Regions from separate parts of the Homo sapiens genome. Here region 1 is linked to region 2. The links come from fine-mapping of genetic effects on gene expression. A gene starts in region 2. The other region holds a variant in brackets. All regions are shown on one strand. Distances are between the middles of the regions.

What was found. PIP is the estimated chance that this variant, and not a neighbour inherited with it, causes the effect.
Region 1: its variant is fine-mapped to the expression of RCC2 in whole blood (TOPMed, PIP 0.93).

The regions. Positions count from the first base shown.
Region 1 is chr1:17,461,136-17,476,951 of GRCh38, forward strand. No RefSeq gene overlaps it. Among named protein-coding and RNA genes, the nearest start is that of RCC2, 29 kb to the left of the region's middle. RefSeq lists enhancers at 6,818-7,473, 7,474-8,127, 8,128-8,781, 8,782-9,435. The variant C/T (reference allele first, on the strand shown) is at 8,760.
Region 2 is chr1:17,430,262-17,446,077 of GRCh38, forward strand. It overlaps RCC2 (regulator of chromosome condensation 2), which reads right to left and starts at 9,416. Exons shown (of 13, transcript NM_018715.4): 1 at 9,284-9,416; 2 at 7,969-8,261. The coding sequence starts at 8,253. It overlaps LOC124903862 (a long non-coding RNA gene), which reads right to left and starts at 11,282. Exons shown (of 2, transcript XR_007065508.1): 1 at 11,197-11,282; 2 at 9,875-10,792. RefSeq lists silencers at 8,097-8,196, 9,516-9,655.

The DNA of each region.
Region 1 (15,816 bases), 31 kb after region 2:
GAGATTGCAGTGAGCCGAGATCGCGCCACTGCACTCCAGCCTGGGTGACAACAGAGTGAGACTCCATCTCAAAAAAAAAAAAAAAAAAAAGAAAGAAAGAAAGAGAAAGAAGGCCAGGCGCAGTGGCTCATGCCTGTAATCCGAGCACTTTGGGAGGCTGAGGCGGGTGGATCACGAGGTCGGGAGATTGAGACCATCCTGGCTAACACGGTGAAACCCCGTCTCCACTAAAAATACAAAAAATTCTCCAGGCATGGTGGCGGGCGCCTGTAGTCCCAGCTACCCCGGAGGCTGAGGCAGGAGAATGGCGTGAGCCTGGGAGATGGAGCTTGCAGCAAGCCAAGATCGTGCCACTGCACTCCAGCCTGGGCGACAGAGTGAGACTCCATCTCAAAAAAAAAAAAAAAATGAAAGAAAGAAAAGTCTGAATCGATGACTAAACAAATCACAGGACTTTTCAGTAGTTAGTATTTTTTTTTTCAGGCTAGATTCCCCAAAGTAGAATTTCTGGGGTAAAGGGCGTGACTTTTTAAATTTTATTTATTTATTTATTTTAAGATGGCGTCTTGCCCTGTCGCCCAGCCTGGAGTTCAGTGGCACCATCTCGGCTCACTGCAACCTCCACCTCCCAAGTTCAAGCGATTCTCCTGCCTCAGCCTCCGGAGTAGCTGGGATTACAGGCGCACACCACCACGCTCGGCTAATTTTTTGTATCTTTGGTAGAGATGGGGTTTCACCATATTGGCCAGGCTGGTCTCGAACTCCTGACCTCGTGATCAGCCCACCTCGGCCTCCCAAAGTGGTGGGATTACAGGTGTGAGCCACTACGCTCGGCCACGGACATGACTATTTTTAAGACTCTTGATGCAAATTGCACACCCAAAGAGCAGGTGGTGCTTCCTACCTGTCTAAAGCAGTGCACAGCAGGACCCTCTCAGGTCCTGACATCAGTGTTGCATTTAAAATTCCTAACACCTGTCCAGGTGCGGTGGTTCATGCTTTTAATTCCAGCACTTTGGGAGGCCGAGGCAGCAGATCACTTGAGGTCACGAGTTCGAGAGCAGTCTGGCCAACATGGTGAGAGCCCATCTCTACTAAAAATACAAAAATTAGCCAGGCGTGGGCCGGGGGCAGTGGCTCACGCCTGTAATCACAGCACTTTGGGAGGCCGAGGTGGGCGGATCACGAGGTCAGGAGATCGAGACCATCCTGGCTAACACGGTGAAACCCTGACTCTACTAAAAATACCAAAAATTAGCTGGGTGTGGTGGCGGGTGCCTGTAGTCCCAGCTACTCGGGAGGCTGAGGCAGGAGAATGGCGTGAACCCGGGAGGCGGAGGTTGCAGTGAGCCAAGATCGCGCCACTGCACTCTAGCCTGGGCAACAGAGCGACACTCTGTCTCAAAAAAAAAAAAAAAATTAGCCAGGCGTGGTAGCGGGCGCCTACAACTCCAACTACCCAGGAGGCTAAGGTGGGAGAATCACTTGAACCCAGAAGGCAGAGGTTGCAATGAGCCGAGATTGCACCACTGCACTCCAGCCTGGGCTACAGAGTGAGGCTCTAAATAAATAAATAAATAAATAAAATTTCTAACACAAACCACCCTGTAGATAAGTACACTCAGCATATCTTTATTGAACGCATGAAAGGAAGAAGGGTTTGTTGTGATTTTTCTTTTGAGACAGCGTCTCCTTCTGTCACCCAGGCTGGAGTACAGTGTTGCAATCATGGCTTACTGCAGCCTTGACCTCCTGGCCTCCTGGCTCAGTAGTTGGAATCACAGGCACACGCCACCACACCTAATTTTTACACATTTTTGTAGAGACGAGGTTTCACCTTGTTGCCCAGGTTGGTCTTGAACTCCTGGGCTCAAGCAATTCTCGCACCTTGGCTTCCCAAAGTGCTAGGAATACAGATGTCAGCCCCATGCCAGGCCCCCTTTTGCATATCTTAACTTTAACTTTGTTTGTTTGTTTGTTTTGAGATGGAGTTTCATTCTGTCACCCAGGCTGGAGTACAGTGGTGTGATCTAGGCTCACTGGCAACCTCTGCCTCCTGGGTTCAAGCCAGTCTCCTCTCTCAGCCTCCGAGTAGCTGGGATTACGGGTACGTGGCACCACACCTGGCTAATTTTTGTATTCTTAGTAGAGATAGGGTTTCACCATGTTGGCCAGGCTGGTCTCAAACTCCTGACCTCAGGTGATCTACCCACCTCGGCCTTTCAAAGTGCTGGGATTACAGGCGTGAGCCACAGCGCCCGACAAACTTCTTTATATATGCATGCCAACAAAGAGTCAGACCCTGTAAAATATTTGAAGAGATTTATTCTGAGCCAAATATGAGTGACCATGGCCCGTGACAAAAGCCCTCAGGAGGTCCTGAGATGTGTGCCCAAGGTGGCTGGAGTGCAAGTTGTTTTTATACATTTTTGAGAGACATGAGACACCAATTAAATACACTTAAGAACTACATTGGCTTGGTCTAGAAAGTTAGGACAACTCGAAGCAGGGCGGGGTTGCTTCCAGGCTATAGGTGAATTTAAACACTTTCTGGTTGACAATTGGTTGAATTTGTCCAAAGACCTGGGATTCATAGAAAGGGAATGTTCAGGATAAGATAAATACTGTGAGCCCAGGCACAGTGGCCCAATCCCAGCACTTTGGGAGGCCAAGGCAGGCAGATCACCTGAGGTCAGGAGTTTGAGACCAGCCTGGCCAACATGGAGAAACCCTGTCTCTATAAAAATACAAAATTAGCCGGGTGTGGTGTTACATGCCTGTAATCCCAGCTACTCGGGAGGCTGAGGCAGGAGAATCGCTTGAACTCGGGAGGTGGAGGTTGCGGTGAGCCGAGATGATGCCATTGCACTCCAGCCTGGGCAGCAAGAGCAAACCTCCATCTCAGGAAAAAAAAAAAAAAAGATAAATATTGTGGACACCAAAGTTCTTTTGAAGTCTTATAGTGGCTGCTTTTAGAGACAATAAATGGCAAATGTTTCCTATTCAGATCTTAGTTAATCTCTATAGGATTGTGAGGTTCTGGAAGAAAAAGATCTAGCTATGTTAATAGAGATTCTTTACAGATGCAAATTTTCCCTAGCAAGGAACAGCTTTGTAGGGACATTTCAAAATATGACAAAGAAACATGTTTTGGGGTAAAATATTTTGATGTTCTTCCTTGTCTCATAATGTTATGCCAGAGTCAGTCAGGTTGGAAAGTCAGTCACAATACCTAGGGTTAAATAAAACCCATCTGAAGAGAATTTATGATTTGTAGGGCATGGCTCCCCAGACCCCTTAGATAGGAATTTGGGCAAGATAAAAATCAGAGTTTAGGCCGGGCGCGGTGGCTCACGCCTGTAATCCCAGCACTTTGGGAGGCCGAGGCAAGCAGATCACGAGGTCAGGAGATCGAGACCATCCTGGCTAACATGGTGAAACCCCGTCTCTACTAAAAATACAAAAAATTAGCCGGGCGTGGTGGCGGGCACCTGTAATCCCAGCTACTCGGGAGGCTGAAGCAGGAGAATGGTGTGAACCCAGGAGGTGGAGCTTGCAGTGAGCTGAGATTGTGCCACTGCACTCCAGCCTGGGCGACAGAGCCAGACAACGTCTCAAAAAAAACAAAAACAAAAAATCAGAGTTTAGTCCTCATGCCTCACATATGTGCCCAGGAAGTGGGTACTCCTGAAATCCCCGTTTCACAGATGAGGAAACTATGGTGGAGTATGAGAGGCTTGGCCAGGGACAGTATAAGAACAGGCACAGGCCAGGTGCGGTGGCTCACGCCTGTCATCCCAGCACTTTGGGAAGCCAAGGTGGGTGGATCACCCGAGGTCAGGAGTTCAAGACCAGCTTGGCCAACATGGTGAAACCCTGTCTCTACTAAAAATACAAAAATTAGCTGGGGATGGTGGTGTGCACCTGTAATCCCAGCTACTTGGGAGGCTGAGGCAGGAGAATCGCTTGAACCTGGGAGGTGGAGGTTGCAGTGAGCTGAGATCACAACACTGCACTCAAAAATGGGCAACAAGAGAAAACTCCATCTCAAAAAAAAAAAAAAAAGAGAACAGGCACAGGTAGAGATGATTAAATAGCAGTGAGCGCTCGGAATCTTGAGGAAGAGAGAAGGAAGGTGGGTAGGGCGTGTACCCATCTTAGATTCTTTGGCTGGGACCCTATTCATTAGACTAACAAAAGACAGATTGGCAAGAGAAAAATAAACAGAAGTTGATTATGACACTTGTACATGGGAGTACTCAGAGGTAAGTGACTCAAGAGGGTGGTTAGAACTGGGGTTTATGTAGCAACTTAACAAAAGAAGAATACATTTTAGTGAAGTGAAAAGACGAAGGGAAAGCACTAGGGCAGCAAATCGTGAGAGGGTCAATATATGGGGGATGAATGGAAGATGGGAGCTAGGAGTGGAGTCGGTTAAGTCTACTCCTCTGGGCCCCAGGAAGTTTAGGGTCTGGAGGTGTCTCTGGGATCAACTTTTGTCCTTCCTGGTGGTTTTTTTTGCGGGGTGGGCACATTTATAAATTTATGTCTTGCTTTTTGGCAGCTACGGGAAGGGCAGAGAGCTTTTCTTCTTCTTTTTTTTTTTTTTTTTTTTGAGACGGAATCTTGCTCTTGTTGCCCAGGCTGGAGTGCAATGGTGCAATCTCAGCTCACTGCAACCTCCACCTCTCGGGTTCAAGCAGTTCGCCTGCCTCAGCCTCCCGAGTAGCTGGGATTACAGACCTGTGCCACCACGCCCGGCACATATTTGTATTTTTAGTAGAGATGGGTTTTCACCATGTTGGCCAGGCGGGTCTCTAACTCCTGACTTCCTGATCCACCCGCCTCGGCCTCCCAAAGTGCTGGGATTACAGGCGTGAGCCACCACACCTGGCCTGTGCCTGTTCTTATACTGTCCCTGGCCAAGCCTCTCATACATCATGAGCCACTGCGCCTGGCCTGCTTTTCTTTCTTTTTCTTTCTTTCTTTCTTTTTTTTTTTTTTTTTGAGATGAGTTTTGCTCTTGTTGCCCACGCTGGAGTGCAATGGTGCTATCTCGGCTCACTGCAACCTTCTCCTCCAGGGTTCAAGCGATTCTCCTACCTCAGCCTCTCGAGTAGCTGGGATTACAGGCACGTGCCACCACGCCCGGCTAATTTTGTATTTTTAGTAGAGACGGGATTACTCCATGTTGGTCAGGCTGGTCTCAAACTCCTGACCTCAGGTGATCCACCCGCCTTGGTCTCCCAAAGTGCTGGGATTACAGGTGGGAGCCACCGACCCTGGCAGAGAGAGCTTTTCTTCTATCTGCTTCTTCTCAGTTGCTTTCAGCTCAACAGGATCCTCATTGCAAAGTGGCATGTTTTGGGCTATTGTATCTGTCAACCTTCAGAGGAATCTGAGAGGCGGGGCCCAGAACAGGTGGGTGGGATTCGGGAGGGAAAGTGGATTTGCTCAGGTACAGGGGTAGGGAGCGCTGTCCCGTCTTCAAGATGTCATCCCCTGCCTTGCTGGAATCTTCCCCACACTGTTCCTGACTCAGGGGCCCAGTCCAGTCTTTTTTTTTTTTTTCTTTGGGACAGAGTCTTGCTCTGTCACTTAGCCTGGAGTGCAGTGTCATGATCTCCACTTACTGCAACCTCTGCCTCCAAGGTTCAGGCAATTCTCATGCCTCAGCCTCCCAAGCAGCTGGGACTACAGGTGTGCACCACCACGCCCAGCTAATTGTTGTATTTTTAAGTAGAGATGGAGTTTCGCCATGTTGGCCAGGCTGGTCTCGAACTTCTGACCTTAGATGATCTGCCTGCCTTGGCCTCCCAAAGTGCTGGGATTATAGGCATGGGCCACTGCACCTGGCCCTGGCTCCCATTTCTGAGCTACATTGAGCTACTGAACTTCTGTGCCTTATTTTCCCCTTCTGTAAAATGGGAATAACAAATTCTTGACCTCAGTCTTCTTCTAAGTATTAAATAATTTTTTTTTTTATTTTTAAATTTTTGCCAGGTGCAGTGGCTCACGCCTGTAATCCTAACACTTTGGGAGGCAGAGGCAGGTGGATCACCTGAAGACGCAAGATCGAGATCAGCCTGGCCAACATGGTGAAATCCCGTCTCTACTAAAAATACAAAAATTAGCTGGGTGTGGTGGTGCACACCTGTAATCCCAGCTACTTGGGAGGCTGAGGCAGGATAATTGCTTGAACCCGGGAGGTGGAGGTTGCACTGAGCTGAGATCCCGCCACTGCACTCCAGCCTGGGCAATAGAGTGAGACTCCATCTCAAATAATAATAATAATAATAATAGTAAATAATAATAATAATTTTTCAAGAATAGAGACGGGGTTTCTTCATGTTGCCCAGGCTAGTCTCGAACTCCTGAGCTCAAGCAATCCACCCGCCTCAGCCTCCCAAACTGATGAGACTACAGGCATCAGCCACCATGCCTGGCTTTAAGTATTAAGTAATATCTGTAATGCACTTCTCAGGCAGCCTGCCTGGCACACAAGAACCCATTCATGTGTCCCTTTGTAAATTCCATAACCAGCTCCTCCAACCTGTGAGAAAACTTGCCAACCGTACTCTCAAAGCAGATATGTTGGGTTTTCCTGGCATCTTGTGAGCACACTTTATTGTAAAAAAACAAAAACAGAATGCCTCTGCTATGTTACATACTGATATGACATTTCTTCTTCTTCTTTTTTTTTTTTTTTGAGACAGAGGGACTCACACTCTGTTGCCCAGGCTGGAGTGCAGTGGTACAATCTCCGCTCACTACAATCTCTGCCTCCTAGGTTCAAGTGATTCTCCTGCCTCAGCCTCTCGAGTAGCTGGTATTACAGGCGTGCATCACCACGCCCGGCTAATTTTTTGTATTTTTAGTAGAGACAGGGTCTCACCAGGTTGTCCATCCTGGTCTCGAACTCCTGACTTCAGGTGATCCACCCGCCTCAGCCTCCCAAGGGCTGGGATTACAGGCATGAGCCACCATGCCCGGCCTTGTTTCTTCATTCTTTTAAATGTTGAGGCATGATTTACTCATAAAATGCGTGCACACATTTTAAGTGTACAGTTCATGATTCATTTTTTTTTTTTTTTGACACAGGGTCTCTCTCTGCTGCCCAGGCTGGAGTGCAGTGGCGTGATCTCCGCTCACCACAGCCTTCACCTCCCAGGTTCAAGCGATTCTTCTGCCTCAGCCTCCCCAGTAGCTGGAACTACAGGCATGCCCCCACCATGCTCAGCTAATTTCTGTATTTTTAATAGAGATGGGGTTTCACCATGTTGGCCACTCTGGTCTCGAACTCCTGACCGCAAATGACCTGCCCGCCTCAGCCTCCCACAGTGCTGGGATCTCAGGCATAAGCCACCACGCTCTGCCATGACTCTTGAGAAATATGAGCATTCATCTAACTGTCATATGTGGAGCATGTCCAGGACCCAAGGGTGTTTCCTCCAGCTCCTTTGCTATCTCTCTTCTCCCACCCTCTTCCCCTGGGCAACCTCTGTTCTGATTTCTATCACTATGGCTCAGTTTTGCCTGTCCTAAAACTTTATTTATTTATTTATTTATTTTGAGGCAGAGTCTCACTCTGTCACCTAGGCTGGAGTGCAGTGGCACTATCTCAGCTCACTGCAACCTCCGCCTCCCAGGTTCAAGCAATTCTCCTGCCTCAGCCTCCTGAGCAGCTGGGATTACAGGTACGCGTCACAATGCCTAGCTATTTTTTGTATCTTTTGGTAGAGACCGGGTTTCACCATGTTGGCCATGCTGGTCTCTAACTCCTGAGCTCAAGTGACCCACCCACCTTGGCCTCTCAAAATGCTGGGATTACAGGCATGAGCCACTGTGCCTGCCCTTATTTATTTTTTTGAGATAGGATCTCACTGTCTCACTATCTGCCCAGGCTGGAGTGCAGTGGCATGACCTCGACTTACTGCAACCTCTGCCTCCCGGGTTCAAGCCGTTCTCATGCCTCAGCCTCCAGGATAGTTGGGATTACAGGCATGTGCCACCACGCCCAGCTAATTTTTGTATTTTTAGTAGATACGGGGTTTCTCCCTGTTGGCCAGCCTGGTCTCGGACTCCTGACCTCAGGTGATCCGCCCGCCTTGGTCTCTCAAAGTGCTGGGATTACAGACGTGAGCCACCGCACTAGGCTGAATCCACTCCTTTTTATTGATGAGAAGTTTTTCACAGTGTACAGGACAGGGAAGGAAGCTGGAGCCCTCTCCTGTAACAAGAGGCAGGTTAAATAGGGAAAAACAACACAAGTTGATTAAGATGTTTACCTTATGTATACGTGGGGGAAGCCCAGAGAAAAGGGGAAATCTCCAAGAAGTGGCTTTGCTTTGTTGGCTTAAATACTATCTTCAACTAACATGAAGAAGGGGGTGGGGGTGGGGGTGGGGGGGGCCGGGCGCGGTGGCTCAGGCCCCTAGTCCCTGCACTTTGGGAGATGGAGGCGAGCAGATCACCTGATGTCAGGGGTTCAAGACCAGCTTGGCCAACATGGTGAAACTCCGTCACTACTAAAAATACAAAAATTAGCCAGGCATGGTGGCGGGCACCTGTAATCCCAGTTACTTGGGAGGCTGAGGCAGGAGAATTGCTTGAACCCAGGAGGCAGAGACAGTGAGCCGAGATCAAGCCACTGCACTCCAGCCTGGCGACAGAGACGGACTCCTCAAAAAAAAAAAAAAAAAAAAAAAAAGAGGCATGGCGCAGTGGCTCACGCCTGTAATCCTAGCACTTTGGGAGGC[C/T]GAGGCGGGTGGATCACCTGAGGTCAGGAGCCTGGCCAACATGGCGAAACTCTGTCTCTACTAAAAATACAAAAATTAGCCGGGTGTGGTGGTGGGCGCCTATAATCCCAGCTACTCGGAAGGCTGAGGCAGGAGAATTGCTTGAACCTGGGAGGTGGGGCGGAGGTTGCAGTGAGTCGAGATCACGCCACTGCACTCTAGCTTGGGAGACAGAGCAGGATTCCTTCTCAAAAAAAAAAAAAAAAAGAAAGAAAAAAAAGAAAGAAAGGTGTGTGGAAGTGGAGGGCAGCTATGGAGCGATGACCAGAAAAAGCTCAGCAAACAAGGGTTTGTTATGCAGATTGCAACTGATGCTTTCTCCATTGATAAGAGTTTCTAGTAATTTAGAGTCATTCTTCTCTTCCTGATATGGAGAGGGAGATACTCTTTCAAATGGAGGTTTCCTTTAGAGATGCAAATTTTCCTTACAAAAGAGTAACTCCTACTCTGTTTTTAGAGCTCCTCTTGTGTCTGCAGTTTCTCAAAATAATCAGCTCTAAATAATCCTTATGCCAATGAGGCATATTTTGGGGTGGCATATTCTGGTCTCCCGCAGTCTTATTTTGGGGTGGCGTATTTCTGGCCTCCCGCAAGTTTTCCACGCTGTACAGATAAACCACGATTTGTTTATCCATTCTCCTGTTGATGGACATCCGGATTCTTTCCAGTTTGGGGCTCTTATGCACACAGCAGTGATGAATATTCAGGTAAAAGTCCTGTGTAGCCACATGGTATCAATTCTCATATAAATATCTAGGAGTGAGATTGGTGAGTCTTACGGTAAGTGTGTGTATTGGAAATTGACAAACTATTTCCAAAGAGGTTGTACTATATTGCATACTCACCAGCAAATTATGAATGTTCTATTTGCTCCTAATCCTCTACAACACTTGATACTGTAAATCTGTTTTTTGTTTTTTGTTTTTCAGTCAGAATCTCCCACTGTCACCTAGGCTGGAGTACAGTGGCACAGTCTTGGCTCACTGCAGCTTCAACCTTCAGGGCTCAAGTGATCCTCCCACCACAGCCTCCAGAGCAGCTGGGACTACAGGTGTGCACCACTATGCTTGGCTAATTTTGTTTTTTTTTAATTTTTAAATTTTTTGTAGAGACAGAGTCTCACTGTGTTGCCTAGGCTGGTCTTGAACTCCTGGGCTCAAGCAATCCTCCGGCCTTGGCCTGCCAAAGGGCTGAGGTTACAGGTGTGAGTCATGGTGTTTTGGCAAAATGTTTTAAATTATAACCATTCTAGTAGAAGTGATTTTGATTTTAATTTGATCATTGTGATTTAATTTGCATTTCCTTGATAACTAATGATATAGAACATCTTTTCGTGTACTTATGGCATACTCATCTACTTTGTTTTGTGAAATGTCTGTTCAAGTGTATTGCCCATTTAAAAAAATGGGGCTGGGTGTGGTGGCTCATGCCTATAATCCCAGCACTTTGGGATGCCAAGAAGGGAGGATCACTTGAGACCAGGAGTTCCAGACCAGCCTAGGCAACATAGTGAGACCTAGTCTCTGCAAAACATTTAAAAATTAGCCAGGCATGGTGGTGGTCGTCTGTAGTCTCAGCTACTCAAGAGGCTGAGTTCATAGGATTGTTTTAGCCCAGGAACTCAAGGCTGCAGTGACCTATGATTGCACCACTGTAGTCTAGCCTGGGCAACAGAGCAAGACCCTCATTTCTTTTTTTCTTTTTTTCGGACATGGAGTCTCACTCTGTCACATGATCATAGCTCACTGTGGCCTTGACCTCCTGGGCTCAAGCAAACCTCCCACCACAGCCTCCCTAGAAGCTGGGATTTCAGGCATGTGCCACCACACCCAGCTAATTTTTGTATTTTTTATAAAGATGTGACTTTGGCATGTTGCCCACACTGGTCTCAAACTCCTGGGCTCAAGCAATCCTCACCTTCCCAAAGTGCTGGGATTATACGTGTGAGCCACTGTGCCTGGTGGAGACACTATTTTTTTAAAAAGAGAATTCGGCCAGGCATGGTGGCTCACACCTGTAATCCCAGCACTTTGGGAGGCCGAGATGGGCAGATCACAAGGTCAGGAGTTCAAGCCCAGACCAGCCTGACCATGATGGTGAAACCCTGTCTCTACTAAAAATACAAAAACTAGCCAGGCATGGTGGCGCATGCCTGTAGTTCCAGCTACTTGGGAGGCTGAGGCAGAAGAACTGCTGGAACCCAAGAGGCAGAGGTTGCAGTGAGCCGACATCGTGCCACTGCACTCCAGCCTGGGCAACAGAGGGAAACTCCGTCTCAAAAAAAAAAAAAAAAATTCTGTTTTTGTGTAAGGTGTGAAATAAGAGTCCAGGTTAATTATTTTACTTTATTATTATTATTATTATTATTATTATTTTGAGACGGAGTCTAGCTCTGTCGCCCAGGCTGGAGTGCAGTGGCACAATCTCAGCTCACTGCAAGCTCCGCCTCCCGGGTTCACACCATTCTCCTGCCTCAGCCTCCCGAGTAGCTGGGACTACAGGCGCTTGCCACCACGCCTGGCTAATTTTTATATCTTTTGTAGAGACAGGGTTTCCCCACAATGGCCAAGCTGGTGTTGAACTCCTGACCTCAGGTGATTCACCTGCCTCGGCCTCTCAAAGTGCTGGGATTACAGGCGTGAGCCACCGCGCCCGGCCAAGGCATTTTTTTTTTCTTTGAGACAGAGTCTCTCTCTGTTGCCCAGGCTGGAGTGCAGTGGCATGATCTCCACGTCCCGGGATCAAGCAATTCTTTTGCCTCAGCACCCCCATGTAGCTGGGACTACAGGCATACATCACTACACCTGGCTAATTTTTGTATTTTCACTAGAGACGGGGGTTTCACGGGGTTGGCCAGGCTGATCTTGAACTCCTGACCTCAAGGGATCCACTGGCCTTGGCCTCCCGAAGTGCTGGGATTACAGGCCTGAGCCACAGCACTTGGCCCGTTTAAGGCATTCTAAGTCACAGCATGAGATAGGAGATTGGCACAAGATACAGGTCATAAAGACCTTACTGATAAAACAGGTTTGCAGTAAAGAAGCCAGCTAAAACCCACCAAAACCAAGATGGCGATAAGAATGACCTCTGGTCGTCCTCACTGCTACACTCCCACCAGTGACCTGACAGTTTACAAATGCCATGGCAACGACAGGCAGTTACTGTATAAAGTCTAAAAAGGAGAAACATGAATAATCCACCTCTTGTTTAGCACATAATTAATAAATAACCATCAAAATGGGCAACCAGCAACCCTCAGGGCTGCTTTGCCTGTGGAGTACCTATTCTTTGTTCCTTTACTTTTCTAATAAATTTGCTTTCATTTTACTGTACGGACTCGCCCTGAATTCTTTCTTGGGAGAGATCCAGGAACTTGGGGTCTGCATCAGGACCCCTTTCTGGTAACAAGAACTTTGGTCAAATATTATTCTGAGGCCGGGCGTGGTGGCTCATGCCTGTAATCCTAGCACTTTGGGAGGCTGAGGCAGGTGGATCACCTGAGGTCAGAAGTTCAAGACCAGCCTGGTGAACATGGTGAAACCTCATCTCTACTAAATATACAAAAATTAGCCAGGCATGGTGGCGGGCGCCTGTAATCCCAGCTACTCAGGAGGCTGAGGCAGGAGAATGGCGTGAACCTGGGAGGCAGAGCTTGCAGTGAGCCGAGATCATGCCACCGCACTCCAGCCTGGGCGACAGAGCGAGACTGCGTCTTAAAAAAAAAAAAAATTTTTTTTAAATTAGCCAACTCTGGTCATGTGTGCCTGTGGTCACTACAGTCTCTGGGATTGTAGGACACACCAACACGCCCTGTTAATTTTTTTTTTTTTTTTTGTAGAGATGGGGTCTGGCGATGTTGCCCAGGCCAGTCTTGAACTCCTGGCCTCAACTGATCCTCCTGCTGTCATGGCCACCTGAAGTGTTGCGATTACAGATGTGAGCCACCATGTCTGCTGGCACAAATTTTATTATATGTTAGGATCTATAACAATATCCCTTCATTCCTGATATTAGGAATTTGTGTTTTTACTTTTTAATTTTTTTATATTTATTTATTTATTTATTTTTGAGGCGAAGTCTCGCTCTTGTCCCCCAGGCTGGAGTGCAATGGCGCAATCTCGGCTCACTGCAACCCCCGCCTCCTGGGTTCAAGCCATTCTCCTGCCTCAGTTTCCCAAGCAGCTGGGACTACATGTGCATGCCGCCATGCCCAGCTAATTTTTGTATTTTCAGTACAGACGGGATTTCACCATATTGGCCAGGCTGGTCTCGAACTCCTGACTTGTGATCCACCCGCCTCAGCCTCCTAAAGTGCTGGGATTACAGGCGTGTGCCACCATGCCGGGCCTACTTTTAATTTTTTTTATTTTTGTTTTTTGAGACAGAGTGTTGCTCTGTCACCCAGGCTGTAGTGCAATGGTGCAATTTTGCCCCACTGCAACCTCCACCTCCCAGGTTCAAGCGATTCACTAGCGTCAGTCTCTGAGTAGCTGGAATTATAGGCATGTGTCACCACGCCTGGCTAATTCACTTTTGTATTCTTGATTAGTCTTGCTTGAGGTTTATCAATTTTGTGAATCTTTTCAAATAACCAACTTTTGTGGGTTGGTTGGTTTGTTTGTTTTGAGACAGAGTCTCACTCTGTCACCCAGGCTGGAATGTAGTGGCAGGACCTCAGCTCACTGCAACCTCTGCCTCTTAGGTTCAAGTGGTTCTCCTGCCTCAGCCTCCCAAGTAGCTGGGATTACAAGCATGAGCCACCTCACCTGGCCCAACTTTTGTTTTTGATAATTTTTTTCTATTTTCTTCTTTTTTCTAATTCATTGATTTCTGATCTTTATTCTTTCTTTCTTTCTTTTTTTTTTTTTGAGATGGAGTGTCGCTCTGTTGCCCAGGCTGGAGTGTAGTGGCGTGATCTCGGCTCACTGCAACCTCCACCTCCCGGGTTCCAGCGATTCTCCCGCCTCAGCCTCCCGAGTAGCTGGGACTACAGGTGCGCATCACGGAGCCCCGCTAATTTTTGTATTTTTTAGTAGAGAGGGAGTTTCACCATATTGGCCGGGCTGGTCTTGAACTCCGCCCACCTCGGCCTCCCAAAGAGCTAGGATTACAGGCATGAGCCACCGCGCCCAGCCTTATTGTTTCTTTTCTTCTACTTACTTTGGGTTTAATTTTCTGTTGTTCTCTTAGGTTCTTTATATAACCATCTCCAATATAACCATTCTTTGCTATTATAACCATTGCAAGCTATATATTTTCTTCTACTTACTTTGGGTTTAATTTTCTATTGTTCTCTTAGATTCTTAATATAACCATCTCCAATGTAACCATTCTTTGCTATTATAACCATTGAAAGCTATACATTTTCCAGGCTGGGTGGGGCGGCTCATGCCTCTAATTCCAGCACTTTGGGAGCCTGCGGTGAGAGGATTACTTGAGTTTAAGAGTTCAGGGCTGGGCGTGGTGGCTCTTGCCTGTAATCCCAATACTTTGGGAGGCCGAGGCAAGCGGATCACCTGAGGTCAGGAGTTCAAGACCAGCCTGGCCAACATGGTGAAACCCGTCTCTACTAAAAATAGAAAAAATTAGCTGGGCATGGTGGCATGTGCCTGTAATCCCAGCTACTTGGGAGGCTGAGGCAGAAGAATCGCTTGAACCTGGGAGGCGGAGGTTGCAGTGAGCCGAGATCGCACCATTGCACTCCAGCCTGGGCAAAAAGAGCAAAGATCTGTCTCCAAAAAAATAAAAGAAACAGTTCAAAACCAGGCTGTCCAACATAGTGGGGCCCCATCTCTACAAACACACAAAAAAATTAATACAGTAGCTGGACATGGTGGCACATGCCTGCAGTCCCAACTACTCAGGAGGCTGAGGTGGGAGGGCTACTGGAGCCTAGGATGTTGAGGCAGCAGAGGCCTGTGATTGTGTAATTGCAGCACTCTAGCTTGAGTGACAGAGCAAGAGAGAATCTGCGATTACAGGTGTGAGTCACTATGCCCAGCCTGTTTCACTTATACCCTGCAGAAGATGCTATCTGGAGGCCTGGCGTCATCTTCCCCCATGCATGTTCAGCCAGCCCTTAGTCAAGGACTTTTAGTGGACATTCCTCCTCTCCCCTGCCAGACCTCGGGGCCTCCTTCTGCACAGACTCCTCCTCTCTGGCACCATGTCCCACCATTTCTAGCCATTTCCACTGCCCCAAATGCTAACTCCACCTTCTCAGCTCAGCAGGACACTAAGTTCTGCCTGGACTCCAGCTCACCGTGCAGTGATTACAAAACTGTCCCCAGGAAGAGGGTAGGGAGAGGGGCAGAGGGTGAAGTCTCACCTTGTGAGTTTCCCTCCACTCGGGGGTCATAGGCTTGTGCTGCCTGTGGTTCAGTGCCTGAAGACTGGCATTCACGGCTTTTGTCCAGTTTAGTTTAATGGTTTCTTAAGATGAGAGGGCTTGTGGGGTACCAGTTACAGCATGGCTGTAAGTGAAGGTCACCCTCCTCACTAAGATGATGTTTCTTTTTTTTTTTTTTCTTTTTTGACAGAGTCTTGCTCTTGTCGCCCAAGCTGGAGTGCAGTGGCGTGATCTCGGCTCACTGCAACCTCCGCCTCATGGGTTCAAGCTATTCTCCTGTCTCAGCCTCCTGAGTATCTGGGATTACAGGCACACGCCACCATGCCTGGCTAATTTTTTGTATTATTGTAGAGACGAAGTTTCACCATGTTGTCCAGGCTAGTCTCGAATTCCTGATCTCAGGTGATCTGCCTGCCGCTGCCTCCCAAAGTGCTGGGATTATCAGTGTGAGACACCGTGTCTGGCAACTGATGTTTCTTGAAAGTCTGTTGTAAACTTTTTTGTTTTTGAGACAAGGTCTCACTCCCTCAGGCTGGAGTGCAGTGGCACAATCTCGGCTCACTGCAACCTCTGCTTCCGCTTCCCCCGTTCAAGCGATTCTCTTGCCTCAGCCTCCTGAGTAGCTGGGACCAGAAGTAGTGATGGGGTTTCACCATGTTGGCCAGGCTG
Region 2 (15,816 bases):
ATCCCAGCACTTTGGAAGGCCGAGGCGGGCAGATTGCTTGAGCTTGGAGACCAGGCTGGGCAACATGGCAAAACCTTGTCTCTACAGAAAATAGAAAAATGAGCCTGTGGTCCCAGTTACTTGGGAGGCTGAGGTGGGAGGATTGCTTGAGCTGAGGAGCTGGAGACTGCAGTGAGCCAAGATCACACCTGCTCTCCAGCTTAGGTGACATAGCCAGGCCTTGTCTCAAAAAAAAAAAAAAGGGGGCCAGGCACAGTGGCTCACGCCTGTAATCCCAGCACTTTGGGAGGCTGAGGCGGGTGAATCACGAGGTCAGGAGTTCAAGACCAGCCTGGCCAATATGGTAAAACCCCGTCTCTACTAAAAATACAAAAAAATTAGCCAGGCGTGGTGGCATCCGCCTGTCGTCCCAGCTACTCCAGAGGCTGAGGTAGAAGAATCCCTTGAACCCGGGAGGCGGAGGTTGCAGTAAGCTGAGATTGCACCATTGCACTCCCAGTGTTGCTGCCCAGGCTGGAGTGCAGTGGCGTGATCTCGGCTTGCTGCAACCTCTGCCTCCCGGGTTCAAACGATTCTCTTGCCTCAGCCTCCCAAGTAGCTGGGATTACAGACACTCAGCTAATTTTGTGTGTTTTTAGTAGAGACAGGGTTTCACTATGTTGGCCAGGCTGGTCTCAAATTCCTGACCGCAGGTGATCCACCCACCTTGGCCTCCCAAAGTGCCGATAAAATGCCAATAAAATAACGCCGATGAAAGTTCCCAACCATGCCAATAAAAATGTATTTGTTGGCCAGGCGCGGTGGCTCACACCTGTAATCCCAGCACTTTGGGACGCTGAGGCAAGCAGATCACGAGGTCAGGAGATAGAGACCATCCTGGCTAGCACGGTGAAACCCCATCTCTACTAAAAATACAAAAAAAATTAGCCGGGCATGGTGACCGGCACCTGTAGTCCCAGCTACTCGGGAGGCTGAGGCAGGAGATTGGTGTGAACCCAGGAGGCGGAGCTTGCAGTGAGCCAAGATCGCACCACTGCACTCCAGCCTGGGCGACTGAGCAAGACTCCATCTCAAAAAAAAAAAAAAAAAAAAAAAAAAATATATATATATATATATATATGTGGGCTGGGTGTGGTGGCTCACGCCTGTCATCTCAGCACTTTGGGAGGCTGAAGCAGGCGGATCACCTGAGGTCAGGAGTTCAAGACCAACCATGGTGACAAAGCCAGCCCTGTCTCAAAAAAAAAAAAAAAAAAAAAAGAAAGAAAGAAAAAGAAAAAAGGGCAGCTCCAGGCCCAATCATTCTAACCTCTACAGTGTGATCACCCCATGGGTATGCTTTGGCAGTACGGCTCACGCATTTCTAAGATTACACATCTTCATGACGGATGATTTCCACTTCAATAGGAACCTTTACACGACCCAAACCTGATTAGGGCGTCCCCCAAGATATAGGTTCCGTCACGCTTGCCCACTCCACCACATTATGTAACAGGAAAAAGATGGTCAATCTACAGGAATGCATCCTGCAGTCCTCATGAAAAGGGGAAGTGAGGCCAGCCGCGGTAGCTCATGGCCCGTCATCCCAGCACTTTGGGAGGCCAAAGTGGGTGGATCACCTGCGGTCAGGAGTTTGAGACCAGCCTGGCCAACATGGTGAAACCCTGTCTCTACTAAAAATACAAAAAATTAGCCGGGTGTCTGTAATCCCAGCTACTTGGGAAGCTGAGGCAAGAGAATCGCTTGAACCCAGGAGGCAGAGGTTGCAGCGAGCCGAGATCACACCATTGCACTCCAGCCTGGGCAACAAGAGCGAAACTCTGTCTCAAAAAGAGAAAAAAAAAGTTGGGGGGAGGGAAGTGAAACAACACGGAAAGGGAGAACAACTTTGGTTCATTTAAATTATTTAGAAAATGACCTTAATCAGAGGGTGGCCCAGCCCCTGCAGCACCCACAACTCAGGTTACTTGAATTGGAGCCTAGCTTCCCCTGGTTATCTGCCCTTCTTTGTTTAACTGGCAGGCCTGGCTGGAATATGCTACAGGTCTATATTCAATGGCTTCTGTTGAAGTCCCTGTGGAAGGAGAGGCCTCTGGGTCCTCTGCCCAAGCCTACCAAGTTGGCATGGAGGGGGCAGTAGAGACCCAGGAAGGGTGCTAAGGCACTGGAGACCAAGCTCCCAGGCCAGAGGGCAAGCCTAGAAAAGAGCCCTGGAATGCCAGCAACTGCAGACCAGGCAGGCGGAGGTTCATGGGCACCTGTGCTCAGTATGAACCATTGAAGTCAAACCACCCTACACTGAGATGCAACCACTGCAGCAAAACTTCACAGTGCTGAGGCCACACCAGAAGCCTCAGCTCCATCAGGCCAGAGGGCATGGTTCAGGGGCAAGTTCAGACAGCCAGAGCTTAACCGCAGTGGCCTTGGCCTTGGGGAGGGAGTTTCCTGGGTGACCTGGACATTTGGTCAAGGGCTCATGAAGACTGATCCATCAAGCTAGCTAAGCATTTATAGGCAAACCCAACCACGCCAATAAAAATGTATTTGTGGGCCGGGCATGGTGGCTCACGCCTGTAGTCCCGGCTACTCGGGAGGCTGAGACAGGAGAAGGGCATGAACCCGGGAGGCGGGGCTTGCAGTGAGCCGAGATCGCGCCACTGCACTCCAGACTGGGCGAAAGAGCGAGACTCCATCTTAAAAAAAGAAAAAGAAAAAGAAAAAGAAAAAAATATATATATACACTCACACACACATATATATACACACACACACACATATACATACGTGTGTATACATATACATATATACGTGTGTATGTGTGAAAAACCCCGGTAAACTGAGTCTACTCCAGTGACGGTGGTCAGATTCCTATGAAGGACATTAACTGTTATTCAAGTTTTTACGTCATGGATCCTATTTCCTCACACATTAGATGGAGGTTAGTGTATTTCGTTATTATTTACATAATTGTTTGCTCTAAGCTGCTTTCTTTTATTTCTCTATAACTTCTTTCCTCTGCCTTATGTGGAATTAACATTTAAATAGAGTAACAGAGAACTCCCAGCACCCCTTCTCACTTAAGGGGTGCTCCTCTTCCTCAGAGACCAGAAACAGCCAATCGTGGGAGAGACTCCCGCGCTTGCGGGCTCCACCCGGGGCGGCGGGGCAGGGCGGGGGTGCCAGTGGGTGTGTGGGTGTCTGAAGCTCAGTGTGCCCTCCCAGGCGGAATCCAGCCTTCCCTGATGGGCCTACGGATTGTTTTTTTGGACGAACTCAGTGTCTGCGACCCTGCTTGTGTATAAAGGCCACGCAGCAGACAGCCTGGCAAACAGTCTGCCCAATGAGATGAGTGATTTTCATGTCATTTCACCTGGCTGCCTCCAGCAACTTGGTCACATAACCTGGGCAGAGACACACAGAAATGGACAGAAAAGGCACTGAGCTTCTTCAATCAACAAAATGGGATTTCTAGTCTAAAGCAATTTTTGAATTATGATCCAAATGCAAGGTGCGCGTTTACGGGGCCCAGAGTCAACCTTTTAACATAGGTCCATGTAGAAGACCGCTGCTCCGGGGAGGTAAGACCCCCGGGAACAATGCCGGCATCGACCAATTACCTAAGGGCCATCAACTGAAACAGACTTCCGGGTTGGCTTTCAGTTTTATTTATTTGCTCCTTTCAGATTCAACACATCTGTCTCAGGGTCCACAAAACCTTGGCAACCCAAGACTGGAAAAACTACAAAGACCTGGGCAGCTTGCAACACTCACCTGTTTTGTAGGATCTGGCCAAGGCTGCTGCCTTTACTTGCTTTAGGAGGTTATGAAGTGCGCAAAGAATTAGGACTGAATCTACCCTAGTGTGACACTGCCATCAATATTTGGAGTTCCTGGCATGCAACTTCCCAAATCCTTGGAATCTCCAAAGCAATGTCTTTTTGTATGCTAATGACTGACACTGGCAGCCCCCAGGCAGCTTCCGGATGGGGCAGTGGGAGCCTAGGGACTTTCAGCCCCATCCTCCAACCTCAGGAGGGAGATGACTGAAGGTTAAAGTGATGATCAATGGCTTAATCTACCATGCCTACATAATGAAGCCTCCGTTAAAAACCTGTAAGGACCAGGTCACAGAGCTTGTGGAGAGCTGAACATGTACCAGGTGGGTGGTCTGCAGAGGGCACGGAAACACAGTGCCCCTTCTGCCACATCTAGCCTTACAGGTCTCTTTATCCATAGCCTTTGTAATATCCTTTATAATAAACTGGTGTTTCCCTGAGTTCTGTGAGCCATTCCAATAAATTAATCGACCCCAAAGAGGGGGTCATGAGAACCCCAACTAGAGGCTAGTTGGTCAGAAGCTACCAGGGACTGGACTTGCAACTGGTGTCTGGGGTGGAAGGACAGTCTTGGGGACTGAGCCCTCAAGATGAGGAAATCTACCTCCAGGTGGATAGTGTCAAGAGATGAACTGGAGGACACCCAGCCGGTGTGTGCTGCAGAACTGATTGCTTGCTTGATAGCAGGGGGAGACCTCCCTTTACGTCTAGTCACAGAAGTCTTGTGTTGGGAGGCGGGGCGTGGTGGCTCACGCCTGTAATCGCAGCACTTTGGGAGGCGGGCAAATCACGAGGTCAGGAGTTCAAGACAGCCTGGCCAACATGGTGAAACCCCATCTCTACTGAAAATACAAAAATTACCGAGCACAGTGACAGGTGCCTGTCATCTCAGCTACTCAGGAGGCTGAGGCAGGAGAGTTGCTTGAACCCAGGAGGTGGAGGCTGCAGTGAGCTGAGATCACACCACTGCACTCCAGCCTGGGAGACAGAGCAAGACTCCATCTGGGGTGGGGGGTGCGGAAGAAGTCTGGTGTTGGTTGTTGAGTGTGGCCGTGAGAGCGGAGGAAAAAAGAATTTGAATTTTTTCTTAACACCTAGGCAATGACAACGCTCATCTGCCATAAGAATGTTCTATAAAATGCACATCTTTTACTCAAGGCAATTCTGCCCCTCAACAATGTAAGTATTTGGCTCATCTTCTACAAGCCCGACACCTGCAGCTTTGGGGTCACTGAAGGCAATATGGTTTTGGACATTTCCTGGGCGGCTGCTTTCACACAGACCTCCTCCTAGCAACCCTGAGCGGGGCAAGGCATGCAAAATGCTCAGTAAAAAAGGTTCTTTCTGCAACAAGGACTGCTGTCTGCCTGTGGCAGCACACAGGGTCCCTAGGACTGCTCAACAGAGAAACAGAGACCAGAAACCTGGGGCCAGGGAGACTGGGCAGGAGGCCAACCCAGGACAAGGGGCAGAGGGCTGCCCTAGGCCTATGGAAAGGCAATGGGGCTGCATGGACCCAGCCCCGAACATGGACCAAACTCAGTAGATGCTAACAAAACTTAAACGTGGGGCACTTTGGGAGGCCAAGGTGGGTGGACCACCTGAGATCAGGAGTTCGAGACCAGCCTGGCCAACGTGGTGAAACCCCGTCTCTACTAAAAATACAAAAAATTAGCCAGGTGTGGTGGTGGGCGTCTATAATCCCAGCTACTCGGGAGGCTGAGGCAGAAGAATTGCTTGAACCCGGGAGGCGGAGATTGCAGTGAGCTGAGATCGCAACATTGCACTCCAACCTGGGCAACAACAGCTAAACTCCAGCTCAAAAAAAAAAAAAAAAAAGCAAAACTTAAATGTAGGGTGTGCACTTTCCATGAGGCATAAAGGGGCATCATATGCTGAACCCTCAGCCTCCCAGGTGCTCTGATTCTAGAACAGCACCGACAGCCCAAAGGATGGGCATCATGGGCCCCTGTTGGTTTTAAGTGGATAGAGAAAGGAAGATGTAGCTTTTAGAGTCCTGCTTATACACATATGTAAAATAATAACGTATTTATGTGTATAAACAGGAACTTAAAAGCTGCAATGGACTGCTGTTTACTCACATTAAGACTTACAAACATGCAACCCAACACAGGGCTCGCGCCTGTCATCCCAGCACTTTGGAAGGAGGCTGAGGCAGGCAGATCACTTGAGGCCAGCAGTTTGAGACCAGCCTGGCCAACATGGTAAAACCCAGCCTCTACAAAAAGTACAAAAATTATTCGGGTGTGGTGGAACACACTTGTAATCCCAGCTGCTCGAGAGGCTGATCAGCACACAAAAATCACTTGAACCTGAGAGGCGGAGGTTGCAGTGAGCTGAGATCGTGCCACTGCACTCCAGCCTGGCCATAGAGGGAGACTCTGCCTCAAAAAAAAAAGACTAACAAATGTGCCATTTCCATTGACAAAGCAGCTTCAAGCAGCACAGCTGGAGACAGAGGTGGGCCAGGGAGAGCCAGTGTCCCTCACACACTCCCTGTCTCTACCTCCTTGGGTCAATCTCAGCATGGGGTAAGGATCTTTTGCTCTGATGGCAAAATTCAGCGTTCCAACAGTCTGGAGCTGTACAGCTGATAACTGCAGTCTTGGATGTCTAAACACAATCTTGCTTTTGGAAACTCACTCAAAATAGGATACAGGAGACGCGGAAGCTCACCTGGCCTTTCTTTTTAGTTTCATCCTAACATACTGTGTTCGGAGGGCAAATGTCTGGAGTCTGGCACAGCAGACTAGACGTCAAAGGAAAACAGTTCCTGTGTTCCAGTTTCTCAATACTTTGGCCATTGTCTAGTCTAGCCTGATCCAAGACCCCGGGCAAGACCTTTTGACAGCTTTTGACGGGCTCTCCTCCACTGCCTAACATGTTAACCCTTTCACCCAGAAGGCACTTTTACAAAGCATATTCCCATGTGCAATTTGCAGGGACATCAGGAGTTACAGCATTTGGAGATCCAGTTCCATCCATGACTTTGGACAAGGCCCTCGAATTCTGTGCCCCAGTTTCCCTATCTATAAAACGGACGTAGAAAATGTGTTATTAGACACTGCCTGCGCTTCTCTGGAGGAAAGCACTCTGCTGTTAACCCTTAAACACCCTTAGGAGATGGGCACTTATGGAAGGAAAAAAACCTCTCCGGGTGTCAGGCTCTACACCCCAGGTGGAAGTTCTTGCTCTCTGGGGGTTATCTGAGAATCTGGTGAAAACTTAGACCCTCTTCTGAAAAACATATCCCACACCACACCAAACTTAAAGAAAGTTCTGTGGGGGTGGGGAGATGCTGTGGCGGCAGATGCCGGGTTCAGATCTCCGGCTCTGCAGGCTTTTTCGGGAACGTTAACTTGAGTCAGCCACGACCTTAATTAAGATTTGAGAAAACAGAAGCCCGCCCAGGACCCTAGGAGATGCTTCTTCACTTGGGGGGGCTACAACAGAGCCCTCGCGAGCATCCTGCAGCTTCGGACCACCGGCGGCAAACAAAGCCCGAGCACCGCTCAGCCGGGGGGCTTCCCCGACCTCGGGGGAGGGCTCTGCGGAGCATGCGCGGCGGCCGTCAGGCCCCGCCCCCCCCGGGCGCCGGAGCCGAGGCGGCGGGAACCTCAAAGCCCCGGCGCAAACGGCCGCTCCCCGCAGAGCGCCGGCCGCCCCCTCCCCGCGGCGCCCGGGCGCAGCGGCGGCCACGGACGTGTGGGGCCCGCTGGCCGCCCCCTCTTCCAGGCCGGGCGAACTTACCGAGGTCCCCTTTCCCGGGGCGGGGGGGGAGGGGCGCAGAGGGAGCTGTGGGGGCGGGGCCATGACCCCCTCGTGCGGGCTTCGGCCGCCCCTCCCCCGCCGCGGGCCCGGGCGCGCGCCCCAACCGCCAACCGCCCGCGCGGTGCCCGGGGTCGGGTAGGCCGCGGGCCGCGCGCCCCGTACCGAGCCCTTTTGTTGCGCGGAGGCGGAGGCAATGATTCAGCCCGCGGCCTGCGCCGGCCCGGCCGCCGGGAGGGAGCGTGACGCGAGGCGGCCCCCGGCTGGAACGCGCGCCGTGCCGCGTCGCTGAGCCCGCCGGCCCCGGCCCTGCGCCCACCCGTCTACCCTGACCCTCACTCACGACGCGCTCCTTGGTGTGCTCGGGTTCGGTGATGACCACGGCCGCGCCGCCCGCCTTGCCTGCTGTCGCCGGCCGCGCCGCGCGCTTGCCCCCGCCGGGGGCCCCGTCGAGCTCCAGGCCGTCCTCGTCGCCGCTGCTGCCGCCGCCGCTGCTGCTACTGCAGCGCTCGGGCCGCTCGCGCTTCCTGCCCGCCGGGCCGCCGCGTTTCCTGGGCCCGGCGCGGGCAGTGCCGTTGCCCGAGCTCGGCTCCTCCCAGGCCGCCGCCGCCGCCTTCTTCCTGGGCATGGTCGCGGCTGGAGGGAGACACGGGGCAGCGGCGCACAATGGACGGGTTATAAACTGCGCGGGGGGAGGGGAGCGGAGACGAGCCACCCGGCCTCCACTTCCTCCTCTGCCCTCCCCAAAGTGGCGGCCGCAGGGTGGGCGGAGAGGGGGCGAGTTGGGAGAGGAAATCGCGCCCCTCCCTGGCCCCGGCGCGGCTCCTTCGGGGAATCCCGCAGGGCAGCCGGGAGCCCCAGAGGCAATCCCCTGGAGGGAGAATTGAGACCCCCGGCCTATCCGTAAGTTAGGTTTGCCCACAAAGCATCACAGTTGCAACCTCGCCCCCCAAAAGTAAAGGGAAAGTAAAACCAGCCTCCAGTCCCCTAGATTTTCATTAAAGAAGGCTTCGGGACACTTCCAGGATTCCCCCTTGGCACCTGGGTGGTAAGGGAGCCCCTGCTCCCCGGCTACCCCACCTGCTGCTTTTGTCTCCGCAGTCTCCCCCCAAACCCACTCATGGCATTTAATGCAACGCTCTCCCCCACCCCGCATCAGCCCTGGACCCCCGTTCGGCCCCAGCTCAGGGGTGCCGACCTCGGGCTCTAGTTAGCCGAATCCCTACGGCGGACTGCCCCCGGCGACGGGGGAAGAGCCCGAAGAAAGCTGGACCCCAGCCCCAAACACCTGCTCGCACAGACACGAAAAATAAAAACTTTAATGGTGCCCAACTCTCTCCCAGCCCCCTTGCCGGCCGTGCGGCCCGGCCGGTCTCCGATTCGACTGCAAAGTGTCCAGGGCCGCCGCCAGCTCCCCGGCGTCCCTGCGCTCTCCCCTGTCTGCTTTTTTTTTTTTTTTTAATTGATTTTGAACAATGGGATCTCTGTCTGTCTCCGATTAAACCACGTGGATCCGCCTTCCTTCCTCTTTTTATTCCTTCAATCACCCAGCCCCCCTCCCCCAGGTTTTTTTTTAACCTTTTCTCTTTAAAAAAAGGAAAAAAAAAAAAACTTTCCCAGACCCCACAAACTGATCACTGTCGATTTTCAGACCCTACCTGGTTGGAGTGATGAGAAACCGGAGAGAAAAAAGGAAGAGAAGCAACTAAAAGACGGATCGGAGGGCTTTTTTTTTTCCGGCCCAGACGAGGGCTCCAGCCCACTCACCAGATACACTTAAAATGTAAATACGAGCTTCCAGAACAAATGCTACAACACAAAACAGAAACACATGTGCGGCCGCGCGGCAAGCGAGCGCGCGGCGGGGCGGGAGGCGCGGGGCGCGGGGCGCGCGCGCCCCCTGCCGGCCGGCGGACCCGTTGCCGGCGCCCCCGCCCCGCCCGGCCTGGCCCTGCCCTGCCCACCCGAGCCTGCGCCGCGCGCCGCGCGCCTCGCCGCCCGCCTCGGCTCCGCTGCTCCTGCGCCTTTCGCGGGCCCGCGAGCGCGCTTTGGGCCTTCCACGCAGTGCGGCCTGCGCGTCAGGGACTTCTTTGCGGCTTAGGAGGATGTTGGATTGTTTTTCCTGGGCACGTCTAGACAGGTCACATGAGGACACTCGCTGGAAAATAGTTACTTCGCTCACGCAGCAGCCAACAAGGGACGTGCCCTAATTGAGTGATTGGAATGAAAGATGAATACAATTTGAATAATTTTTTCCTGTGCAGAGAGAAGCTGAGTTTTATTTGCCTGTGGATGTGTCCTCAGTATGTAACAAGGTGCTGTGACACGGAAGAATCACATAAAGGTTTGCTGTATTAGTGAATTAATTCATAATTAATTTGAGGGCCGTGGAGGCACTGGAAGCTGGCTTTGAGGGGAACTTTTTCATTTTTTGCCAAATATTTACTGAGCCCCCGGTACATGCAAGACCCACAGTGCCCGGGGCTGCAGAGCCAGTGAACAAGGTTTCCACCCCAGTGGAACGCACAGCCTAACGGAAAGACAGATCAGTAAACAAGTAATTACAACAGTGGTAAGCTTTACAAAGTGATGCCTGTGTAGGAACATTATGGCGAGGGGATTTATCCTAGTCCAGGGCCAGGGAAGGCATTCAGGTGGAAAGTTATGCTGAACAACTTAAAGGATGAATAAGACCCGATGAAAGGGGGCAGGAAAAGTATTCCAGGCCAGGTGGAGTGAACGGGACGCTCCACATTTCGAGATCTTGAGAGACACCTCCTGGGAGGGAAGCTGTCTGGTGGGGCTGGGGTGAGAAGAGCCAAGAGGCTGGGTTCTGAGGAGGTAGGCAGGGGTGCGAGGGCCTGCATAGACCCTAGTGAACCGCAGTGAGGCTTGATCTCGTTCGCGTGTCCTGGGACGGGTGAAAAAAGCCTTGCTTGCTTCCTACCGGTCTCCACCCTCCACCTCTCCACCCCACTTCCATTACGATCTCACCGTCACTTGCTCTCCTCTCAAAGCTTTTCTCCTGCTTCTTTTTTCCTGAGGCGTACCGCACAAGGAAGTTCCTTCTTCAGGCAACTTCTTGAAAACGCATAAAGTTCTAGGATTTTTGTGATTCATTCATTCATTGTTAGTGCAAGAAACAGGACTGGGAAGCATCAAGTGTCCTGTAAAGGAAGACAGAGAAACCAAGAGGCCCAAATCTAAGGTATTTGATCAAAGTCAAAAGTCTGTGTGTCAAGAGAGCTGAGAGTGCTTATGTAAAAGAACTTTGGAAATGAGAAATCAACTGGTACGTTTCAGAGATTTTCAGAAAAGTCAAGATGGAATAGAAGCACCCTTTGAAAGCCTATTCTTAATAGACCTGCATTTAAAAAGATTTTTTAGAGGTTAAACTTTGACGCTTTGATATAAAGCATAAGTAGAACCAACCAGAAAAGAATTTCGCCTAAATATGCCATCAAGTCCCCTTCAGGAAATGGCATGCTGATGCTTGTCAGCCGAGGCGGGTGGCTGGGTGTTTATCCTCTAAACACCCTGTGTGGCCAATTAGGAACACCACTGACAGTACCTTTAGATTTCAGTCTGCAAGTCTTTTCCTTTTTTCTCCTGCCCCTTTATAATGCTTTTTGCCAGCTTAAAAGACTCATGCCTCAGACACACTGATGCAATGAGACGCTAATATCATATTGCATCATCTGATCCTAGGTGTGGTGCTCCTGAAACTGGTTTTTCTTGAGGTTATGCTGCAGTAGAAAAGCACTTTGGGTATAACACCCTGGAACTGGCCCTACTTGTCAGAAGACAAAAGTAATTTTTGCAACTCCATGCCTCAATTCCACACCACTATTCTCCCAGGGAAAGCCTGCGTGACTCTCCCGGCTGGAATTGGGTGTGCAACAGACATTCATCAGTTAGGCGTGTCATGCTGCCACTTATGTAACAAATGTTACATAGTGAGGTGCACCTACAGGCAAGCTGAAAATGACACTTCCTCCTTCAAACTGTGCTTGGAATTTCACCTCGCTTCTAATTGAGCAAATTCTCCAGGGACAGGATGGTTTGGTGCAAAACCGGGAGAGGGGAAGGGAAAGAAGGTGGCTGAGATTTCTCTGACACTTTGAGGCACAGGTGTCTGGCACTGTGCTGAGCATTTTACACCCAGAATTTTGGAAATGTGGCTGCAAGTGCCAGCCTGCCGTCACTCTTTAACCTCATCTTCAGCAAAATCATATTGCAAGTTAGATTCAGCTACGCTTAAGTTCTTTTCCAGGGGTGAGGTGTGATTTTTTCTTTCTTTTTTTTTTTTTTTTTTTTATTTTTTTAGATAGAATCTTGCTCCTCCAGCACCCAGGCTGAAGGGTGATGGTATGATCCCAGCTTACTGCAGCCTCTACCTTCCTTGCTCAAGCGATCCTCTCGCTTCAGCCTCCCAAGTAGCTGAGACCACAGGCATGGACAGCTACACTTGGCTAAATTTTTTTTCTTTTTTAATGTTTTGTAGAGACAAGGTCTCTCTCTGTTGCCCAGGCTGGTCTCGAGTGGTCCTCCCACCTCAGCCTCCCAAAGTTGCGGGATTATAGGGGTGAGCCACTGTGCACAGCCTCAGAAGTATAATTCATTTTTTTTTTTCTTTTGAGGTGGGGTCTCGCACTGTCACCCGGGCTGGAGTGCAGTGGTGGCAACCTCCACCTCCCAGGTTCAAGCAGTCTCCTGCCTCAGCCTCCCAAGTAGCTGGGATTACAGGCGCATACCACCACGCCTAGCTAATTTTGTATTTTTAGTAGAGACGGGGTTTCACCATGTTGGCCAGGCTGGTCTTGAACTTCTGACCTCGTGATTTGCCCGCCTTCGCCTCCCAAAGTGCTAGGATTACAGGCGTGAGCCACTGTGCCCAGCCTCAGAAGTGTAATTCTATTCAACTTGGCTACAGAAAGCTACACCTGTACTTGAAAGATTAATTTTCTGATCCAGTGTCTATAAAAATGAAACCAGTGATCCTGGGAGTGATGCGCTAACCAATGGAAACGATTCTTTCTCTTTTTTTTTTTTTGGAAACTGGGTCTCACTCTGTCACCTAGGCTGGACTGTAGTGGCGCCATCTTGGCTCACTACAGCCTCGACCTCCTGGGGTCAAACAGTTCTCCTGCCTCAGCCACCCTAGTAGCTGAGACTGTAGACGTGCACCTCCACGCCCAGCTAATTTTTAAAATTTTTTTGTGGAGACAAGGTCTCACTATGTTCCCCAGGCTGGTCTCAAACTCCTGACCTCAAGCAATCCTTTTGCCTTGGCCTCCCACAGTGCTAGGATTATAGGCATGTGTCACTGTGCCTGGCTTCTTTTTACTCTTTTCAATGTGACTACCACAAAATTTAATATTACATATTAAGTTTTTTGTAGCTCATATGTTATTCCTGTTGGACATCACAGCCTTCGAAAGCATAGCTGGAAAACCAGTAATTTCCTCCAGACCCCACTCTTTCTGCATCTGTTCTCTAGTTTCTCCTCTCTGTAAAATGGCAAGATAGAGTTTGGGCTAAATTTCTCTTGAGGTTACTTCTGGATTTCGTATTCCCTGATTCTGAGGACAGTAGTCAGCGGGGAATCCCTGTCATAGTGTTTGGAGAGATGTTTTCTGGGAGATGCAGATCCGGTCGTCCTATTTCTGCCAATGAGTCATGAAATTTTCAAACGCAGAGTCTTTAAATATTGTAGTTGGACCTTTAAGTTCTCTGTCTGTGAGGCATGCCTGGGCTTGGCTTGTGGCTTCTTCATCTTTGTTTTTCTAGCAAGCACCCAGAGCAGCCCGGCGTGTAGTAAGCTGTCAATATATGTTTGTTCATCTAAATAATATCCAGCGGAAGAACTGAAGCCCAGGGAGATGCTGAGGCCTCCTGAGGCCACACAGCTGGCAGATAGGATAGCCAGGAAGTGTACAGGCATCTGCATCAGTAGGAGGATTGTCAGAAACACAGAATCTGGCCAGGCGTGGTGGTACACGCCTGTAATCCCAGCACTTTGGGAGGCTGAGGCAGGACGATTGCTTGAGCCCAGGAGTTGGAGACCAGCCTGGACAACATGGTGAGACCCCATCTCTACAAAAATTAGAAAAAAATTAGCCAGCCGCGGCCAGGCGCAGTGGCTCACGCCTGTAATCCCAGCACTTTGGGAGGCCGAGGCGGGCAGATCACTTGAGGTCAGGAGTTCGAAACCAGCCTGGCCAACATGGTGAAACTCCCGTCTCTGCTAAAATATACAAAAATTAGCCGGGCGTGGTGGCAGGCAACTTAATCCCAGTTACTTGGGAGGCAGAGGCAGGAGAATCGTTTGAACCCGGGAGGCGGAGGTTGCAGTGAGCCAAGATCGAGCCATTGCACTCAAACCTGGGGGATAAGAGTGAGACTTCTCTCAAATAAAAGAAAAGAAAAGAAAAAAATTAGTCAGGTGTGGTGACGCAAACCTGTAGTCCCAGCTACTTTGGAGGCTGAGGTGGGAAAATCGCCAGAGCCTGGGAAGTCCAGGCTGCTGTGAGCCATGATCATGCCATTGCACTCCAGCTTAGGTGACAGAGTGAGACCCTGTCTCAAAAAAATAAAAATAAACACTGAATCTCAGGTTCAGCCCCCAGACCTACTGAATCAGAATGTGTTTTTTTTTTTTTTTTTTTTTTTTGAGTTGGAGTTTCCCTCTTGTTGCCCAGGCTGGAGTGCAGTAGCGCAATTTGGGCTCACTGCAACCTCCACCTCCCAGTTCAAGCGATTCTCCTGCCTCATCCTCACAAATAGCTGGGATTACAGGCACCTGCCACCACACCCAGCTAATTTTTTGTATTTTTAGTAGAGACGGGGTTTTGCCATGTTGGCCAGGCTGGTCTCGAACTCCTGACCTCAGGTGATCCACCCACCTCGACCTCCCAAAGTGCTGGAATTACAGGCGTGAGCCATCACACCCGGCCCAGAATGTGCATTTTTAACAGGTGATTTTTATGCATCTTAAAGTATGAGAGGTGCAGCCAGGCATGGTAGCTCACACCTATAATCCCAGCACTTTGGGAGGCTGAGGCGGGCAGATCACCTGAGGTCAGGAGTTCGAGACCAGCCTGACCAACATGGAGAAACCCCGTCTCTACTAAAAATTAGCCGGGCGTGGTGAGCGGAGATTGCGCCATTGCACTCCAGCCTGGGCAACAAGAGCGAAACTCCATCTCAAAAAAAAAAAAAGTATGAGAAGTGCTACTGAAATCATACCACTTTTCCATACCCTGTGGAAGCCATTCAAAAGGTGGTTTCTCATACTTTAAGATGCATCTAGCTGGGCGCAGTGGCTCACGCCTGTAATCCCAACATTTTGGGAGGCCGAGGAGGGTGGATCACGAGGTCAAGAGATCGAGACCATCCTGGCTAACACGGTGAAACCCCGTCTCTACTAAAAATACAAAAAATTAGCCAGGCATGGTGGCGGGTGCCTGTAGTCCCAGCTACTCGGGAGGCTGAGGCAGGAGAATGGCATGAACCCGGGAGGTGGAGCTTGCAGTGAGCAGAGATCGCGCCGCTGCACTCCAGCCTGGGCGACAGAGCAAGACTCCGTCTCAAAAAAAAAAAAAAAAAAAAAGATGCATCTAGTCCAGGGTGAGGAGGTCCAGGATGCAGAATACCAAGACTCACCAAGCTGGCTGATGTGGTTAGGCTTTGTGTCCCCACCCAAATGTCATGTTTTTATTTATTTATTAATTTATTTATTATTTATTTTTTTATTTTTTGAGACGGAGCCTTGCTCTGTTGCCCAGGCTGGAGTGCAGTGGCGCGATCTTGGCTCACTGCAGGCTACGTCCCCTGGGTTCACGCCATTCTCCTGCCTCAGCCTCCCGAGTACCTGGGACTACAGGCGCCCACCACTTCGCGTGGCTGATTTTTTGTATTTTTAGTAGAGACGGGGTTTCACCGTGTTAGCCAGGATGGTCTCGATCTCCTGACCTCGTGATCAGCCCACCTCAGCCTCCCAAAGTGCTGGGATTACAGGCGTGAGCCACTGCGCCCAGCTATTTATTTATTTATTTTTATTTTATTTTATTTTTTTGAGATGGAGTCTCACTCTGTTGCCCAGGCTGGAGTGCAGTGATCTTGGCTCACTGCAGCCTCTGCCTCCTGGTTCAAGCAATTCTCCTGTCTCAGCCTCCCAAGTAGCTAGGAT